Linked DNA regions of Homo sapiens. Each later gene encodes a partner of the first gene's protein in a complex. Each region holds a gene or a part of one and is shown in the gene's direction. Other genes may lie near its edges. The genes, in order: RASSF5 and STK3.

Region 1 (8,549 bases):
AAAACTGTCTGCTTGGTTTCTCGCTTTGTACCCGTGGACAGATCCTTAAGAATCTGGCAGGTGAATAGGAATCAGAGTCTTTGTCTTATCCTCTGAAGATTGCTATAGTATCGATCTCGCTCTCATGGCAGATAGTGCCTGTTAGGTAAACCTTTGGGGTGTTTGTGTGTTTCTTGGCACCAAGTGTTAATTCAGCAGCTGGATGAAGACCCTTGAGGTCTGGAATTGTTGTGAGGGGTCTGTCTATTTCAGTTCTTTTCGAATGTTGCTGCGAATTAAAATCAACTAGGAGATTTTTAAAATTCCCATGCCCAGACTGCACCCCAGACCAATTAAATCAGAATCTCCAGGGATGAAGCCCAGGCAGCTAAGTTTCTAAAGATCCCCCAGATGATTGCACTGTGCAGACAAGTTTAAGAACCACTGGTCTGGATTATACGCCATCTCTTGGGTGGAAAAAGGATCCGTGAGCCCTCGTGGCTGTGGCTGGCTGGCCTAATTCAGGAGGTGATTCATTTGGTCCATGGGTCACATCTTGTCTGCCAGATATTTTTGTGGGCAGCAGCCATCCCAGACCTGGGTGCTGGCATTCCATGGCTGTGACATTCGTAGTGTTGGCTACACACGGGGCTCCTGGCACTCCCAGACAGGGCTTCCCATCACCAGCCAGAGGGCCAGGCCTCAGAATGGTGAGGTCAGGGCTGCTGTCTTTTGAGTCAGCCCTGGAAGGCAGAGGTGCCTGTGGCCACTTGCGTCACTTCCCCGCGTTTGTGGTGGGAAGGGGAGAGATAGATGGGTCTATCTGCTGAAGAAAGGGGAACAGGAAGAAGAAACCCTAGGCTAAGGCAGCTTTGCTTCTCACTGTATTCAAAATCAAGCCTTTGAAAGCCACAGCACAGCTGCCTTTTCTTACGGGGAAATGGCTCTAGCTTGATTGGAAACTATGAGAGGAGATCTTTCCGAAGCTTCTAGAATTTTCTTTCCATTACTTATTTTTTATAGACAAGTATGAGAAAGCTATTACCTCCTGAGGAGCAATAGCCTACATGCGTCAGAGACAGAGTGAGTGTATAATAGTAACCAGACAACGGGGTCTTTCTAATTAGAAGCTCCCAGCGGGAAGGTATAGGGGTAGGGCCAGGGTCAGGCACATCTGGTCCCATAGACATGTGCTCAGCTGGCAAGGACTGAGGATGGGGAGCTCTGGGAGCTACCCAAGGGAAGGGATGAGGAAAATGAGAGGCTTCACTGTGAGAGTCCCCGGGTTAATGGACTGACAGTGAATGAAGAGAGTCTGTGAGGCTCACACTACTTGCTACTCACCTCCGGCAAGTGGGAGATGGCCAGAGCTGCTTGCCCTTGGGTGGTCTGCAACAGAATCAAGGTTCAGTTCCAGAGACCTGGGAAGGCACACAGGAGAAGGCTGGGCCCTGCATCCTGGTGGCTGCATCTCACTTGAGTTAGAAGTCCTTCCTTCCCACCTTCACAGGTGACATGGTGCCTCTGGGGCCTGACCCGCTGCTTAGACTCATCTTAGATGAACATTTCACAGATCAGGTAACTTACAGGCTTTGGTTTAACAGCTGCTCATCCCAGCCCCGCAGCACAGAGTTTCAGTGATCATTATGGGTGTGGCAGGCCGGCCCCTTCAGCAAAAGATGCCGTCCCATGGTGGCTACATGGTGAATTGAGAAGAGCATGGGCCTTAGATGGATTTGATTCCAGTTCCTACTTAGCTTCTTACTAGCAGGGGACCACAGGCATGTTTCTTAAACTCAGCCTCAGTTTTGTTATCTGTGAAATAAGAATGACATACATAGTATGTAAGAGAAGGTATGTGAAAGTACCCAGCACAGGCTGTTATTAATAGGTCAGGACCCCTTGGGGAGAGTACAGCGGGAGCAGACAGGCCAGGGAACGATGCCATGATGGAAAGAGGATGTCAGAAGCTGGGTGCGGTGGCTCACACCTGTAATGCCAGCACTTTGGGAGGCCAAGGCGGATGGATCATTTGAGGTCAGGAGTTCGACATCAGCCTGGCCAATATGGTGAAATCCCGTCTCTACTAAAAAATACAAAAATTAGCTGGGTGTGGTGGTGCGCACCTGTAATCCCAGCTACTTGGGAGGCTGAGGCAGGAGAATTGCTTGAACCTGGGAGGCAGAGATTGCAGTCAGCCAAGATCGTGCCACTGCATTCCAGCCTGGGTGACAGAGGGAGACGAAAGAAAAGAAAGAAAGAAAGAGAGAGAGACAGAGAGAGAGGGGGGAGAGAGAGAGAGAGAAAGAAAAGGAAGGAAGGAAGGAAAGAAAGAAAGGAGGATGTCAGCTGTGCTGAGGGGTTGGAGGTGGGAGGCTGGAGCCACGCCAGCTCCTCTTGGCAGCCAGAGCCTGACATTGCATCGGTTCTGTGGGATTGGAAAGTGGAAGGAAGTGATGGCAGGTTGTTCAGGGTGGCGTGTCTCCCACATGGCTTGCTGAAGGGAGGAAGGTAGGGCAAAGCTCTGTCACGGAGGGGGGGCCCTGTTGTGTTCCGCGGGGTGGTGATGTGACGTCGCGGCAGCTGTGAAATTCCCCAGCCAAACCCAGACACCCACAGGACAGTGTCAGATGGTGTCAGAGTCATCCCTCACTGGGCCTCAGTTTCCTCATTTACCAAAGGAGAATCCTGATCCACCCCAAGTCTGCTACACTTGAACGTCAGGCAAATTCTGGGTGGGTTCTGACCAACCAGTTCCCACACTCCCAGCCACTCAGGGACAGTGTGAAGATAAAACCGGGAGGTGGGTAACAGTGAACTTGAGAGAGAGCCAGAGAACTGACTGAGGGACAGTGGCTTCGACCCCAGAATTCACCCCTGTATTGTCTCTACAAGGTGAGGGCCATTGACCTCAATCTCCTCAATTTCATTGTTCACTTATCCTTCCCAGGGGGTGGGAGGAGGAGGGCATCTGGGAACATATGAGAAGAATGAACACATGGTCTCACAGGAGGAACACAATGGGACAGACCTGGAATTTCTGTTTCATTCTGTACATACTGACTGTAGGGTGTGAGGCAGGTTGCTAAACTTCTCTTAGTCTCAATAGTCTCACCTGTAAGATGGGGTAATAAACTATCTTACAGACTTCTGGTTTGTGAGAATCATATGAGATAATGTATGCCAAGTACTTGGCACAGAAGAAGTGCTAAGTAAATTCTAGGTGTCCCTGTGCCCAGTAGCGGTTTATCTCCTCTTTTATGGTAGAGGGGGCTACAGCCCTTCATCCCTGCCAGTTCACTCGTTCATTTGACAAATAGATATTTACTTCTTGCTATGTGAAAAGCACTGTGGCAAGTGATGTGGGGCCTGGACTGGTCTCTATGTGTCCTTGGTCCTTGGGATCTAAGAGAATTCTTGTCTTCCCGATCAGTAGTATATACTGGCACCATGGGTAGACGCCTGTCCCTCCAGCTGTGTTGTTACTTCCTTGAGGAGACAGACCATGGCTTGTATTTCTTTGCATCTCCCATAGCATCAAAGAAGCATCTTTTCCATAGCAGCTTTCCATAAGCAAATGCGGCTCTGCTCATTCACCAGATTCATAGTCAGTGCCTGAGTGCCAGACGCTTTCACACTAATCTCAAGACAAGCCTGTGCAGTAGGTATTGTTCCCATTTCACAGATGAGGAGACTGAGGCTTAGAGAAATCTGAGTTACTTCTCCAGGAGGGCTGGCTAGACACTGGCACAGCTGCAATTTGACCTCTCATTGTCTCACTCCGAGTCCGTGCAGTTAGTTCCACTCTGCAGGGCTGGATGCTCACTTCTTGGTTAGAGAGGCTTTGGGGAGGGCGTGGTTGTTCCCTTTCTCACCCTGAGAACTACTACACATCCACCTCCACTTCTGTGTCTCTTCCAGAATGTCTGTAAACCTGTGGAGGAGACACAGCGCCCGCCCACACTGCAGGAGATCAAGCAGAAGATCGACAGCTACAACACGCGAGAGAAGAACTGCCTGGGCATGAAACTGGTAAGCGCCCGTCCACCCTCAACCTGGCCCCTGCTCCACCACCCGCTTCGGGTTTGGCGCCTCTGCCCTCACTCTGAATTCTGTGGCTACTCCCTGGCAGGTCCCCTCCCTTTCCTCCGGCCTCCAGAGGCCTCCGGGGTCTGGAAGGCTGATAGCCAGAGCCCTCAGTGGCCTCCATGTGCTTTAGGGAAATAGATCTGACTCTCATTTTTTGCTTGTGATTTTGGGAAGCTCTTTTAACTCCTCCTCTGAGCTTCAGTGTAAACTAAGTGATTAAACGGTACGTAATGACCAAGGGCCCAGTATTGCTTGGCCTCCAGGGAGCCAGGACAATGGGACTTAGTTGCTCCCCTTCCTACCCCTTCGATTGTGAGAGAGGGACATACTCTCTCAGAGAGGGGAGGGCACCCAACTTAGCACCCAGTTGGGAAAGGCTGTCTTCAATAGGGAGGGGAGAAGGTAGAAAAACACTGCCCCCTGCTGGTGGCTGGCATCAGCTGGCTCTTTGGGGTTCAGCCAGATGGAGCACCAGAAAATCCAGTCACAAATGCACCTAGGTTTAAGTCTTAAAGGCTGTTTCTTAGTAAAGAGATACAGGAGGAAATCTAGTGGGCTGGTTCTCCAAGGCCCTCATTATAGAGCCTTCCTGCTTCCTGCCTGGTTCAGAGGTACAAACTAGAGTGGCTACCCCACACCCTGCCTCTTACAATGGGCACTCACCAAAGGCAACTGGTTACAGGAGGTTTAGGGAGCTGGCCTGAGCCTCCTGGGAGGGAAATCCACTGCAGCCCCACAGGTCCTCTTTGGTAGCTGGATCCTGAGGGTCTTCTCCCAGCCCACTATGGGGAAAGGGATCTCTGCTCCTTCCTCCAGCTCTCCCACGTCAGCAGAGGCAGGAAAGAACTCAAGGAGACAGGTGGGTGCTGCTGGGGCAATGGCCCCGAGTGGCAGATATGATCATGCAAGGCGGACGGCCCTGACCCCCTGTGACATGCCCCCGCTGGCAGAGTGAAGACGGCACCTACACGGGTTTCATCAAAGTGCATCTGAAACTCCGGCGGCCTGTGACGGTGCCTGCTGGGATCCGGCCCCAGTCCATCTATGATGCCATCAAGGAGGTGAACCTGGCGGCTACCACGGACAAGCGGACATCCTTCTACCTGCCCCTAGATGCCATCAAGCAGCTGCACATCAGCAGCACCACCACCGTCAGTGAGGTCATCCAGGGGCTGCTCAAGAAGTTCATGGTTGTGGACAATCCCCAGAAGTTTGCACTTTTTAAGCGGATACACAAGGACGGACAAGGTAGGAGAAAGAGTGAACCCAACCAGACCGTTCCCTTCCTACCTGTGTCCAAGCCCACCCACTAAAACTCCTGCCGGCCTTGGGTGGGAGCTGTGGGCTTCTCCTGAGCACCAGGGGTCCAGCTGCCCATGTGGTGTTCAGATCTGTGGAATCCGGGCAGGGAGGCAAGAGCAGAGTCCCTGACTCTGCATGTGACTTCAGGAAAACCACACCCTAGGCTCCCATTTCCTGATCTGTGCAATGGGAGGAATCTGCCCCACCATTCCTAATCTTTCAGGAGATGATGTGAATGGAATCATGCTTTAAACTCTGAGCAGACACCCAAGATAAAAGGTTATTGCCCTGTTCATTACTGTCATGTTCATTTCATTAAAAGGCCCGTGTCTACTTCCAGTTGTACGTACCCCACCTCTGCATTTCCAATCCTTTCCCGCAAGCCTGGGCCCCGCCCTTCTTTTCTGGGAAGAGCTCCCAGCACCCTCTCTTGGTTTGCAGTGCTCTTCCAGAAACTCTCCATTGCTGACCGCCCCCTCTACCTGCGCCTGCTTGCTGGGCCTGACACGGAGGTCCTCAGCTTTGTGCTAAAGGAGAATGAAACTGGAGAGGTAGAGGTAGGTCTGGACCCATTGTGCAAACCCAGGCCTTAGGGCACCCTGGGTGGGTGCAGGTGGGTGTTGTCCTAACTACCTCACATAGGTGGGAGCCACGCAGCACGGGCAGGAAGGTGACTGTTGAGAGAGTGAGCAGGGGTGGGTGATGGGCCTGGGGGTCAGTGTTTCAGCCAGGACTCTGAACACCCTGGGGTAGCACATTAGGGCCTGTGTGTGGCAAGGCCTGTGGAAAGAAAGGATTTCATGTGCTTTATTTCTGAAAACTCAGGGAGGAGGGGGACCAAGAAACTCCCTGTGCTCAGGCACAGGCTGTTTTTGCTTCAAAATGGCCCGAGGGCTACCAAGCTCCATCTCTGGGCTCCACTGGGTATAGACGTTTTTGAGCCATTTGTCCTCCCTTTTCTTGACCTCCATCCCCCAAGGGGAGCTAACCAGTGTGTAGTCTTGTGGCATAAACTGGAGTAAAACCAGGCCGGTGCCACCCATGGCCTGAGAATGACCAACAGGGGAAGGTCTCAGTGTTTGTCACACTGTGTTCAGTGGAGGCCTAGAGTTTTAAGGAGTTTTGGGAGTCACTGCGGAGATTTAGGGATCAAGGCAGCTGGGACTCTGTCCCTTCTCCCCATTTCAGCAAGGGCCGCTCTGCTCCCATCTGCTTTCTTTATTGGCATCTGTGCAGAATATGTTTGGAAAAAGTACTCCATGGACAGTAGCTGAATGCTGCTGGCCCTGTGGAAAGCTCAGGCACTTTGAAGTGTGGAGACCTGGGCTCTAGTTCCAGTTCTGCTGCAATGAGCTCTGTGATTGTGATTACGCCACCTTCCCTGTGTGGACTTGAGGTTTCTCACTTATCCATAGCGAGGACCAAACCAGATAAACCTTAGTACTCTATTGTGCTCAAAGAGCTTAGGAGTCTCAATTGTTGGCCGCACAGGGCTTGTGCTCTTGGGTCAGCCTGATGGAAGTCCAAATTGCCTTCTGCCATCAGAGGCCAAGTCCTTTAGGGGTAGGCCTGGGCCAGTCAGGCTCTCATTATCTGCTCTGCCAGTCATGGGAGGTAGATACCCCAATTTCCCAGCAGATAACAGGCTGAGAAGGGTGGAAAGCTGTGCTCGAGGTCACACTGCTGGGAGAGGTGGAGTCAGGCCCAACCCCGGTCTCCTGAGTCCACGTTCCACTCCTCCACCTGCTTTCTGAGGGTCTGCATGTTGGGAGGCTGGGTGGTTCCAGCATCACTGTCAAGATCTCGGCTGCTACACAGAAACTTAAGATTATTGAGTTTCAAAATAAAAACATGGTTCATAGACTGGCAACTCTTGGTCATGAGATGCCAGCATTTGGAATTTTGTTGCTGCTATGACAGGCATGCAAAGCCCAGGCTTCGCTGATTCAGTCTGTTCAGTAGCAAACTGTGTGTGAATCACGGATGTGAACTGGGAAGGGGAAGGCAGCAGGGTCTCTCAGGTCGTGTCAACTTCTAACCTGTCTCCTATTCTGTTTCTTCCCACAAATCTCCCTCTCGCCTCACAGTGGGATGCCTTCTCCATCCCTGAACTTCAGAACTTCCTAACAATCCTGGAAAAAGAGGAGCAGGACAAAATCCAACAAGTGCAAAAGAAGTATGACAAGTTTAGGCAGAAACTGGAGGAGGCCTTAAGAGAATCCCAGGGCAAACCTGGGTAACCGGTCCTGCTTCCTCTCCTCCTGGTGCATTCAGATTTATTTGTATTATTAATTATTATTTTGCAACAGACACTTTTTCTCAGGACATCTCTGGCAGGTGCATTTGTGCCTGCCCAGCAGTTCCAGCTGTGGCAAAAGTCTCTTCCATGGACAAGTGTTTGCACGAGGGTTCAGCTGTGCCCGCCCCCAGGCTGTGCCCCACCACAGATTCTGCCAAGGATCAGAACTCATGTGAAACAAACAGCTGACGTCCTCTCTCGATCTGCAAGCCTTTCACCAACCAAATAGTTGCCTCTCTCGTCACCAAACTGGAACCTCACACCAGCCGGCAAAGGAAGGAAGAAAGGTTTTAGAGCTGTGTGTTCTTTCTCTGGCATTGATTCCTCTTTGAGTTCTCTTACTTGCCACGTACAGGACCATTATTTATGAGTGAAAAGTTGTAGCACATTCCTTTTGCAGGTCTGAGCTAAGCCCCTGAAAGCAGGGTAATGCTCATAAAAGGACTGTTCCCGCGGCCCCAAGGTGCCTGTTGTTCACACTTAAGGGAAGTTTATAAAGCTACTGGCCCCAGATGCTCAGGGTAAGGAGCACCAAAGCTGAGGCTGGCTCAGAGATCTCCAGAGAAGCTGCAGCCTGCCCTGGCCCTGGCTCTGGCCCTGGCCCACATTGCACATGGAAACCCAAAGGCATATATCTGCGTATGTGTGGTACTTAGTCACATCTTTGTCAACAAACTGTTCGTTTTTAAGTTACAAATTTGAATTTAATGTTGTCATCATCGTCATGTGTTTCCCCAAAGGGAAGCCAGTCATTGACCATTTAAAAAGTCTCCTGCTAAGTATGGAAATCAGACAGTAAGAGAAAGCCAAAAAGCAATGCAGAGAAAGGTGTCCAAGCTGTCTTCAGCCTTCCCCAGCTAAAGAGCAGAGGAGGGCCTGG
Region 2 (8,549 bases), on another chromosome or scaffold:
TCCCCATCACTTTCAGGTACACCAATCAGACATAGATTTGGTCTTTTCACCTAGTCCCATATTTCTTGGAGGCTTTGTTCATTTCTTTTTATTCTTTTTTCTCTAAACTTCTCTTCTCACTTCATTTCATTCATTTGATCTTCCATCACTGATACCCTTTCTTCCAGTTGATTGAATCGGCTACTGAGGCTTGTGCATTTGTCACGTAGTTCTCGTGCCTTGGTTTTCAGCTCCATCAGGTCCTTTAAGGACTTCTCTGCATTGGTTATTCTAGTTAGCCATTTGTCTAATTTTTTTTTCAAGGTTTTTAACTTCTTTGCCTGGGTTCGTACTTCTCCTTTAGCTCGGAGTAGTTCGATCATCAGAAGCCTTCTTCTCTCAGCTTGTCAAAGTCACTCTCTGTCTAGCTTTGTTCCATTGCTGGTGAGGAGCTGTGTTCCTTTGGAGGAGGAGAGGCACTCTTATTTTTAGAGTTTCCAGTTTTTCTGCTCTGTTTTTTCTGCATCTTTGTGGTTTTATCTACCTTTGGTCTTTGATGATGGTGATGTACAGATGGGGTTTTGGTGTGGATGTCCTTTCTGTTTGTTAGTTTTCCTTCTGTCAGGACCCTCAGCTGCAGGTCTGTTGGAGTTTGCTGGAGGTCCACTCCAGACTCTGTTTGCCTGGGTATGAGCAATGGAGGCTGCAGAACAGTGGATATTGGTGAACAGCAAATGTTGCTGCCTGATCGTTCCTCTGGAAGTTTTGTCTCAGAGGAGTACCGGGCTGTGTGAGGTGTCAGTCTGCCCCTACTTGGGGCTGCCTCCCAGTTAGGCTACTTGGGGGTCAGTGACCCACTTGAGGAGGCAGTCTGTCTGTTCTCAGATCTCCAGCTGTGTGCTGGGAGAACCACTACTCTCTTCAAAGATGTCAGACAGGGACATTTAAGTCTGCAGACGTTTCTGCTGCCTTGTTTGGCTATGCCCTGCCCCCAGAGGTGGAGTCTACAGAGGTAGGCCAGCCTCCTTGAGCTGTGGTGGGCTGCACCCAGTTTGAGCTTCCTGGCTGCTTTGTTTACCTACTCAAGCCTGGGCAATGGCAGGCGCCCCTCCCCCAGCCTCGCTGCCGCATTGCAGTTTGATCTCACACTGTTGTGCTAGCAGTGAGCGAGGCTCCATGGGTGTAGGACCCTCCAAGCCAGGCGCGGGATATAATCTCCTGGTGTGCCGTTTGCTAAGACCATTGGAAAAGCACAGTATTAGGGTGGGAGTGACCTGATTTTCCAGGTGCCATCTGTCACCCCTTTCTTTGACTAGGAAAGGGAATTCCCTGACCCCTTGCACTTCCCAGGTGAGGTGATGCCCCGCCCTGCTTCAGCTCATGCTCAGTGCACTGTACCCACTGTCTTGCACCCACTTTCCGATACTCCCCAGTGAGATGAATCTGGTACCTCAGTTGGAAATGCAGAAATCATGTGTCTTCTGCAATGCTCACGCTGGGAGCTTTAGACTGGAGCTGTTCCTATTCAGCCGTCTTGTCTCCATCCCTATTTATTAGTTCTAATAGGTTTTTTTTGTGGAATCTTTAGAATTTTCTACATATATGATCATATCATCTGTGAACAGAGATAATTTTACTTCTTTTTTTCCAGTTTGGATGCCTTTATTTGTTTTTCTTCCCTAATTGCTCTGTCTAGAACCTCCAGTACTATATGTAACAGAAGTATTAGGCTGGTGCAAAAGTAATTTCGGTTTTTGCCATTACTTTAAAAAAAAAATGGCAAAAACTGCGATTACTTTTGCACCAACCTAATAGCATCCTTTCATTGTTCCTGATCTTTGTGGAAAAGCTTTCAGTCTTACTGCTTTGAGTATGACATTTACTTTGGGTTTTTTGTATATGGCTTTTACTATGGTGAGATAGTTTCCTTCTATTCATATTAGTTGTGTGTTTTATGAAAAGAAGTTAAATTTAATCAAATGCTTTTTCTGTTTTCATTTGAAATGATCATGTGGTTTCTTCTCCATTCTGTTAAGGTGGTGTATTGCATTGTTCGATTTTGTATGTTGAATCAACCTTGCATTCCAGGAATACATTCCAGTTGGTCATAGTGTATAACCTGTTACAATCCTGTTGAAGTGAGTGTGCTATATTTTGTTGAGGATTTTTGTATCAATGTTCATAAGGGATATTGGTCTTAGTTGTTTTGTGGTAACTTTGTCTGGCTTTGATATCAGAATAATGCCTCTTAAAATGAGTGTGGAAGTGTTCTCTTTTCTTCAGTGTTTTAGAAAATTTGAGAAGTTGAATCAAGATATTTTAATCTTTTTTTTTCCTTTTTGTGGAGTGTATGTTCCCAGATAGCCATTCACATGGTTGGCCCCATTATATCATTTAGACTTCAGTAAAATGTCTTTTGGGCCTTCTTGAATGTCAATCTAAAGTAGCTTCTCAGTCGTTCTCTATCAGTAGCTCTCTATTGTTGTCCTCATAGCAATTTTCACAGACATTTTCCTGTGTTATCCTATTTTCTATCAAATTATCCCGTTGCTTATAGATAGAATATAAGCTTGAGAGCAGTCCCTAATCATTTAGAATTTTTATGGTTGATTCTGTTACATAGGCATGATTGATTAAGTCTTTGGACATTTGTGCTTAACTAAATCTCTACCCCCTCTCTCCTTGCAGCCCTCCCGTAAGTCAGGGGTCAGGCAGAAATTTCCAAACATCTAATCACTTGGTTGGTTTTTTCGGCAACCAGCTCCCATCCTGAAGCTATCTAGGCTCCCACCAAGAGTCACCTGATCAGTATAAATTCTGGTATGGTTGAAAGGAGCTTATTATGAATGACAAAAGACAGCCCCTCTCACTCTTGTGAGAGGGTGAGAAAACAAAGATAAAATATCTTGATTCAACTTCTCACTCACTCAGTCAATTCACAGGGTCTTAGGAGATTTTGTGCCAAGAACCTACAAAGACCAAATATTTCCTGTGATTTCATAATATCACACTACCTTACAAGGTTGTTTTAAGAATAAATGAGAGAATGCATGCATAACTCTTAGCACATTGCCTGGTACAGATAGCAGTGGCTCTACTGCTACAACTGTTAAGAAGATTTTCTTTCTTTCCCATCCGTCTCTTCCTCGGCCTTCTCTACTCTCCCCTTTTTCCCTCCTCTGATAGTCTTTGCTTGTGTTTCCATTTTCCTAATCTTTCTCTGACGTTTTTTCTTCTGAGTTCTCAATATTAGGTCAGAAGTCCAGAACTTGGAAGGGTTAGGAGTGGCATTGGTGTAGGAGCTTCTCGCAGAAGATTCATTGCAAGCCTCCCTCCCTCATTTACTTTCCTTTATGTAAAGCTGTTGGTTTCATTTTCATCAAGAATCTGAAATATCTCAGGGGAAGTATCTGAATTTACTTTTTCAGAACAGATATTAGCTGTGATAGTGCCCTCCCAGTATTAGAAGATGTGGGAAATCACTATTATGATTCCTTATATCAGGCTGATTCTTGAGATATGTTGTTTGCTTTAGGAATGATACTGATAATTTTTTTTTTTTTTTGAGATGGAGTCTCGCTGTGTCGCCCAGGCTGGCATGCAGTGATGTGATCTCAGCTCACTGCAACCTCTGCCTCCCAGGTTCAAGTGACTCTCCTGCCTCAGCCTCCTGAGTAGCTGGGATTACAAGTGCACGCCATCACGCCTGGCTAATTTTTGTATTTTTAGTAGAGACGAGGTTTCACCATGTGGGCCAGGCTGGTTTTGAACTCCTGACCTCAAGTGATCTGCTCGCCTCAGCCTCCCAAAGTGCTGGGATTACAGGTGTGAGCCACCACGCCCTGCTGATACTGATAATCTTAAAGAGAGAAATTTGATCATCCTTTCATTAGTAAAATGTGTAATAAGAAAGCTTATTGTGGGAAGAAGAGGTTCTCGATTATTTACCCCTTTAGCATTTTCCTGGAGGTTTAGCGGTCATTAGAAAGAAGTACTTGTGGCTAGGCATGGTGGCTCACACCTATAATCCCAACACTTTGGGAAGCTGAGGAAGGAGAATTGTTTGAAGCAAAGAGTTCAAGACCAGCCCGGGCAACATAGCGAGATCCCCATCTCTACAAAAATAAAAATAAGTTAGCCTATTGGGTTGGCATGTGCCTGTAGTTCTAGCTACTCGGGAAGCTGAGGTGGGAGCATGCCTTGAGCCCAGGAATTTTAGGCTGCAGTGAGCTATCATCACACCACTGCACTGTAGCCTGGGCAACAGAGTGGGGTCTCTTAAAAAAAAACACACACACACACACGGAAAGACATACTTGTTACTAGTGCTCTTTCGTAAGATTTTATCTAACGTGGCATTTTAATTATGGTTTTAAAAATATTTCTTTCCAGTTAATAGAAGATGAAATTGCAACCATTCTTAAATCTACATTGAAAGGACTAGAATATTTGCACTTTATGAGAAAAATACACAGAGATATAAAAGCTGGAAATATTCTCCTCAATACAGAAGGACATGCAAAATTGGCAGATTTTGGAGTGGCTGGTCAGTTAACAGTAAGTTAACTTTAATGGTTTTCTAAACACTTGGCTAATTTGTTCAGATTTGATTATAACTAAACTTCAATTACTTTTTGAGGGGGAATGGAAAGAAATGTGTAGTTTTTTAATTTTTGTGGAGAAGGAACCATAATTGAGCCAAATTTGAGTATTATTTAATTTATAATTTAGGGTGATTGAATGTGAAAATATATCTTATAATCAAAATGCTTAAATGTTCTAAAAGGGAAGCTACGTAGCTCATTTCTGTAGCTTTTATCATTGTAGCACTATCTTTAATGACTGTGTTTAATGATGGTAGTGTGGATAAGTTACCTGTGGACTCTTGGTTATTTTCAGAATTCGGAATTCCTAAGTATGTCATAACTAGTTGAAATTTTAGCAAAATAGTCAATTTCTGATATAATCTGTGGCATTGGAGGTTTTAACATTTTTTAAAAGTATGTTTGGCATACAGATTTCCTTTGTGCTTTTGTAGTAGCATTTATGGCTATGTAACATTATTGCAGGATACAATGGCAAAACGCAATACTGTAATAGGAACTCCATTTTGGATGGCTCCTGAGGTGATTCAAGAAATAGGCTATAACTGTGTGGCCGACATCTGGTCCCTTGGCATTACTTCTATAGAAATGGCTGAAGGAAAACCTCCTTATGCTGATATACATCCAATGAGGGTAAGAAAATTATGGTTTGCTGAAAATGTTAGCCTTATATAAGTGTTGCCGTTTTGTAATGTCAATGTAAGTAAATATAAACTAAATAAGTTCATTTAAATGTATTCTTTTTAAAAATGGTAAAATTACCTCTTAAAGATTAGTAACTGTTAACTTCTCTTCCTTCTGCATTCTTAATTGTGAGAAAAGAACTGAAGGCTTTGTATATCTCTACCATCACTGTTCTCCTCCCCCAAAAATATACTTGTAAAATTTTTGCTTGCTTTTCAATAGAAGAAAGGGTTGGTAAATCCTCTTTGCTCTTCAGTTTATTGTTTTCTTGATTGTGGTAGTGAAAGAGTTGGAAGTAATCATTTCTCACTTTTTTACCCACTCTGTGATTTATACCTTACTGTGTGTTTTTTTTTTTCTGCCTTTTCTCTTCTTTGGTCTGAGGATGGTATTAAGCAATCCTAATTTCTAATATTACTATGCACATATAAAGGAATTCGGCTAATTTTTTTTAATGAATGCATGCTGAGAAAATGGAATTCCTTTTTTGAACATCATTATATGCTTCTGTGAACTCTGCAGGATAATTTTTGAGTTTGAAATATATATTTTGCATATTCAAGTCTAATTGCCTGTGTTTCAGGGTTTGTGATGATATACTTTTTAGGTTTATTACTATGTGAATCATATAGATAAGTTCATCATCATAAATAGGTACACTGATCTTTGTATACTTATTGCCCTCTAGTGGCTGTAGTTATCTCAATAAGGATGTAGGAATGAGGGGAGGAGTGTATGTATGTGTGTATTTGTAGAAAAGAGAAGATAATATCATGGTGGCTGGAGGAATGTGAAGTAAATAGATAGAAAGAGGAAGAATGCATAAAAATTCAGATATTTTAGAATATCTGAAGAAGAATAAATTGGAATTACATCTGATATTATAATGCCATTGTGGGTTAAATTTCGATAATATAGGTAACAGTGTATTATACAGAAAATATTTAAAAATCTGTCTGCTGTATTGAAACATTTTAAAGAGAGTTTTTTTTTTTTTTCTTTTGAGATAAGGTCTCACTCTGTCACCCAGCCTGGATTGTAGTAGTGCGATCATGGCTCACTCGAGCCTCGACCTCCTGGGCTCAGGTGATCCTCCCACCTCAGCCTGCAGAGTAGCTGGGACTATAGGTATGCACCACCATGCCCAACTAATTTTTTGTAGAGACAAGGTGTCGCCATGTTGCCCAGGCTGGTCTCCAACTTCTGGGCTCAAGCGATCCGCCCACCTCAGCTTCCCAAAGTGCTGGGATTACAGCAGTGTGCCCAGCCTAGAGTTCTTTGAGTAATGTAATTGTATACAATATGTATCATCTTCCTGGTGTATATAAATTCCTTTTGGTAAATGAAAGATAAAAATGCATCAATTGTTTGAAAATAACTTGAAAAACAACAAGGTCAGCATAAAAACAGGAACACAAAGTCTTATTTCATCTCTGATCATTAGTTATCTGTGGTTCTTTTAGTTAGGATGTTTGTAGGGTGATCCTCAAAGTAGGTGTATTTGAGTTTGAATCAGTGAGGTTTACTAAATTACCCAAGGCAACCTAGGTAAGTACAAGAGCTGGGATTTAACTTAGGACTTCCATTATTACTATTCTGCTTCTTCCCTGTGTAAATCTTATTTTTCCAACCAAATAGTTCAACATGTTAAATTTGATCCTGTGCTCAGATAGCAGAGAATTGTAATATGTGGCCTCTTCCTTTAAGGATCTTCTAATATTACCTGAGAGTTTGAATGAATACATTATACATTATTAAAAATATACCTGAAAATAATATTTCTTTTAGAAAAAAATATACCTGTATTGCAAACTTCCTAGGATGCCTTGCTCACTGTTTTTTTTTTTTTAAATCTAAATCCTACCAGTTTTTCAAGTCCCAACTTGGATTTTATGCCTGTGTAGAGCCATTCTTGACAGCTATCGCCCAAGTAAATTTCTCTTTTTCCTCATATTTTGTATATAGGCAATTTCTTCACAGTCCAGTTCTTTGGACAGTTAATCAAGTGTTGCCTCGTGCATTTCCAAACATAATATAGTTTATTTCCTATTTAAATAATATCATTATTTAACTTTTCTTGTGTTTGTGAGCTGTCTTACAAAGTAGAGTATTGAACTGCAAGTATTGGAAGCTGTTGAGATCATGTAACAGATAGTTTTATCACTGGTAACAAGTACTGCCTTTTGTTTTCCTTGAAATGACAGGTTCACTTGGTTCCTTTTTGAGAAAATGTCTGTCAAATACCCAAGTCTGTGTAACCTTAGTTTTCTGTTAGTTATTCTTCAAGTAAAAATGATGTTCTTTGAAAAGAGCCTTGTAGTTTATTTAGCTTGCAGCTCAGTCACACAACTGCTTTTTTTCAGATTATTGTTGTTCTTTGATATGTGGGGAAGTGCTTTATGCATATTTTCCATTTTGTCAATGTAGAATATTAAAAATACATATTCAAGTGTAGAAATTTAATAGAATTAATAAACTTTACTGTTTCATCAAGGTTTACAGTAGTTTTGTGGGGGGTATAGTGAGGGCAATGAAAGAAAGAGCTGTCCAAGAGAGAAAAATTGTTGAGGGCCCAGCTAAAATTGGTAATTGGGAAAGTATAGTGTAATTAATCCTGGTTTGTGGGCCTTCCTATGGTAGTGTGCTCTGCTGTGCAGTAGAATGCATTATGGCCTTGATATGGAGGGTTTGGGTTTTAATGAATGAGTGTCTTAGAAGGATGGGGCTATAGGGAATTTAAGGATGCTGCTGAGAGACAGTTCAAGGGGTTACTAACAGGGCACAGTCTGGAAAGAAAAGAGAGAGTGTAAGGAAATGGGGTGATCAAAGAATAGGTAGTGTTCTCCATGCTTGCTGCATAGCCGTCATGTGGGGAGCCCTACCCTAAACAGATTAAATCAGAATCTCAGGAGGTTAGAGAGGAGATAAAGTGGTAGTTAAGATATGAGAAAGCTGGTAGGATATGACACTATGGTAAGTGAGTGAAATATTGAAGTTTTTTACCAACATTTTTTTTTGTACTGTAGTAATTTTGTGAAATAAATATTTTATCCTCCATTGGGTGGATTGGATGAAATGGATAAGATTATGTTATTTAAGATGACATAACTTGTCAGTGGCAGAACTGAGATATGAACTCAGTTTGTTCTGTGTTTTTGCCTAGACACCAAAGAAATATCCTCTGTGTTAATATCCCAACTCAGTGCAAGTGGAGGAGCGGCTAACAAAAATAAGACATTTTAAAACCATGTAATCACAATATTATAATTACTGATTTAAAAT

The links.
Region 2: the proteins of RASSF5 (region 1) and STK3 are in contact, whole or in part, in a crystal structure (PDB 4LGD), measured with the Homo sapiens proteins. Residues at the interface, in NP_872604.1 of Homo sapiens: Trp369 (codon at 7,458), Asp370 (codon at 7,461), Ala371 (codon at 7,464), Phe372 (codon at 7,467), Ile374 (codon at 7,473), Leu377 (codon at 7,482), Gln378 (codon at 7,485), Phe380 (codon at 7,491), Leu381 (codon at 7,494), Leu384 (codon at 7,503), Glu385 (codon at 7,506), Glu387 (codon at 7,512), Glu388 (codon at 7,515), Lys391 (codon at 7,524), Ile392 (codon at 7,527), Val395 (codon at 7,536), Gln396 (codon at 7,539), Lys398 (codon at 7,545), Tyr399 (codon at 7,548), Phe402 (codon at 7,557), Arg403 (codon at 7,560), Lys405 (codon at 7,566), Leu406 (codon at 7,569), Ala409 (codon at 7,578), Leu410 (codon at 7,581), Ser413 (codon at 7,590); in NP_006272.2 of Homo sapiens: Phe437, Phe439, Leu440, Leu445, Leu448, Gln449, Arg451, Leu452, Leu455, Asp456, Met458, Met459, Glu462, Ile463, Leu466, Arg467, Tyr470, Lys473, Arg474, Pro476, Ile477, Leu478, Ala480, Met481, Lys484, Gln488.

Annotation. Positions count from the first base shown.
Region 1 is NC_000001.11:206,579,369-206,587,917, forward strand, and holds part of RASSF5 (ras association domain-containing protein 5), read left to right. Parts: exon of another isoform or gene 1-1,732; coding exon of another isoform or gene 1,733-1,794; intron 1,795-3,900; coding exon 3,901-4,011; intron 4,012-5,018; coding exon 5,019-5,316; intron 5,317-5,811; coding exon 5,812-5,927; intron 5,928-7,457; coding exon 7,458-7,610; 3' UTR 7,611-8,549. UniProt on the Homo sapiens protein: Potential tumor suppressor. Seems to be involved in lymphocyte adhesion by linking RAP1A activation upon T-cell receptor or chemokine stimulation to integrin activation.
Region 2 is NC_000008.11:98,703,134-98,711,682, reverse strand, and holds part of STK3 (serine/threonine-protein kinase 3), read left to right. Parts: intron 1-4,371; coding exon 4,372-4,536; intron 4,537-5,048; coding exon 5,049-5,216; intron 5,217-8,549. UniProt on the Homo sapiens protein: Stress-activated, pro-apoptotic kinase which, following caspase-cleavage, enters the nucleus and induces chromatin condensation followed by internucleosomal DNA fragmentation.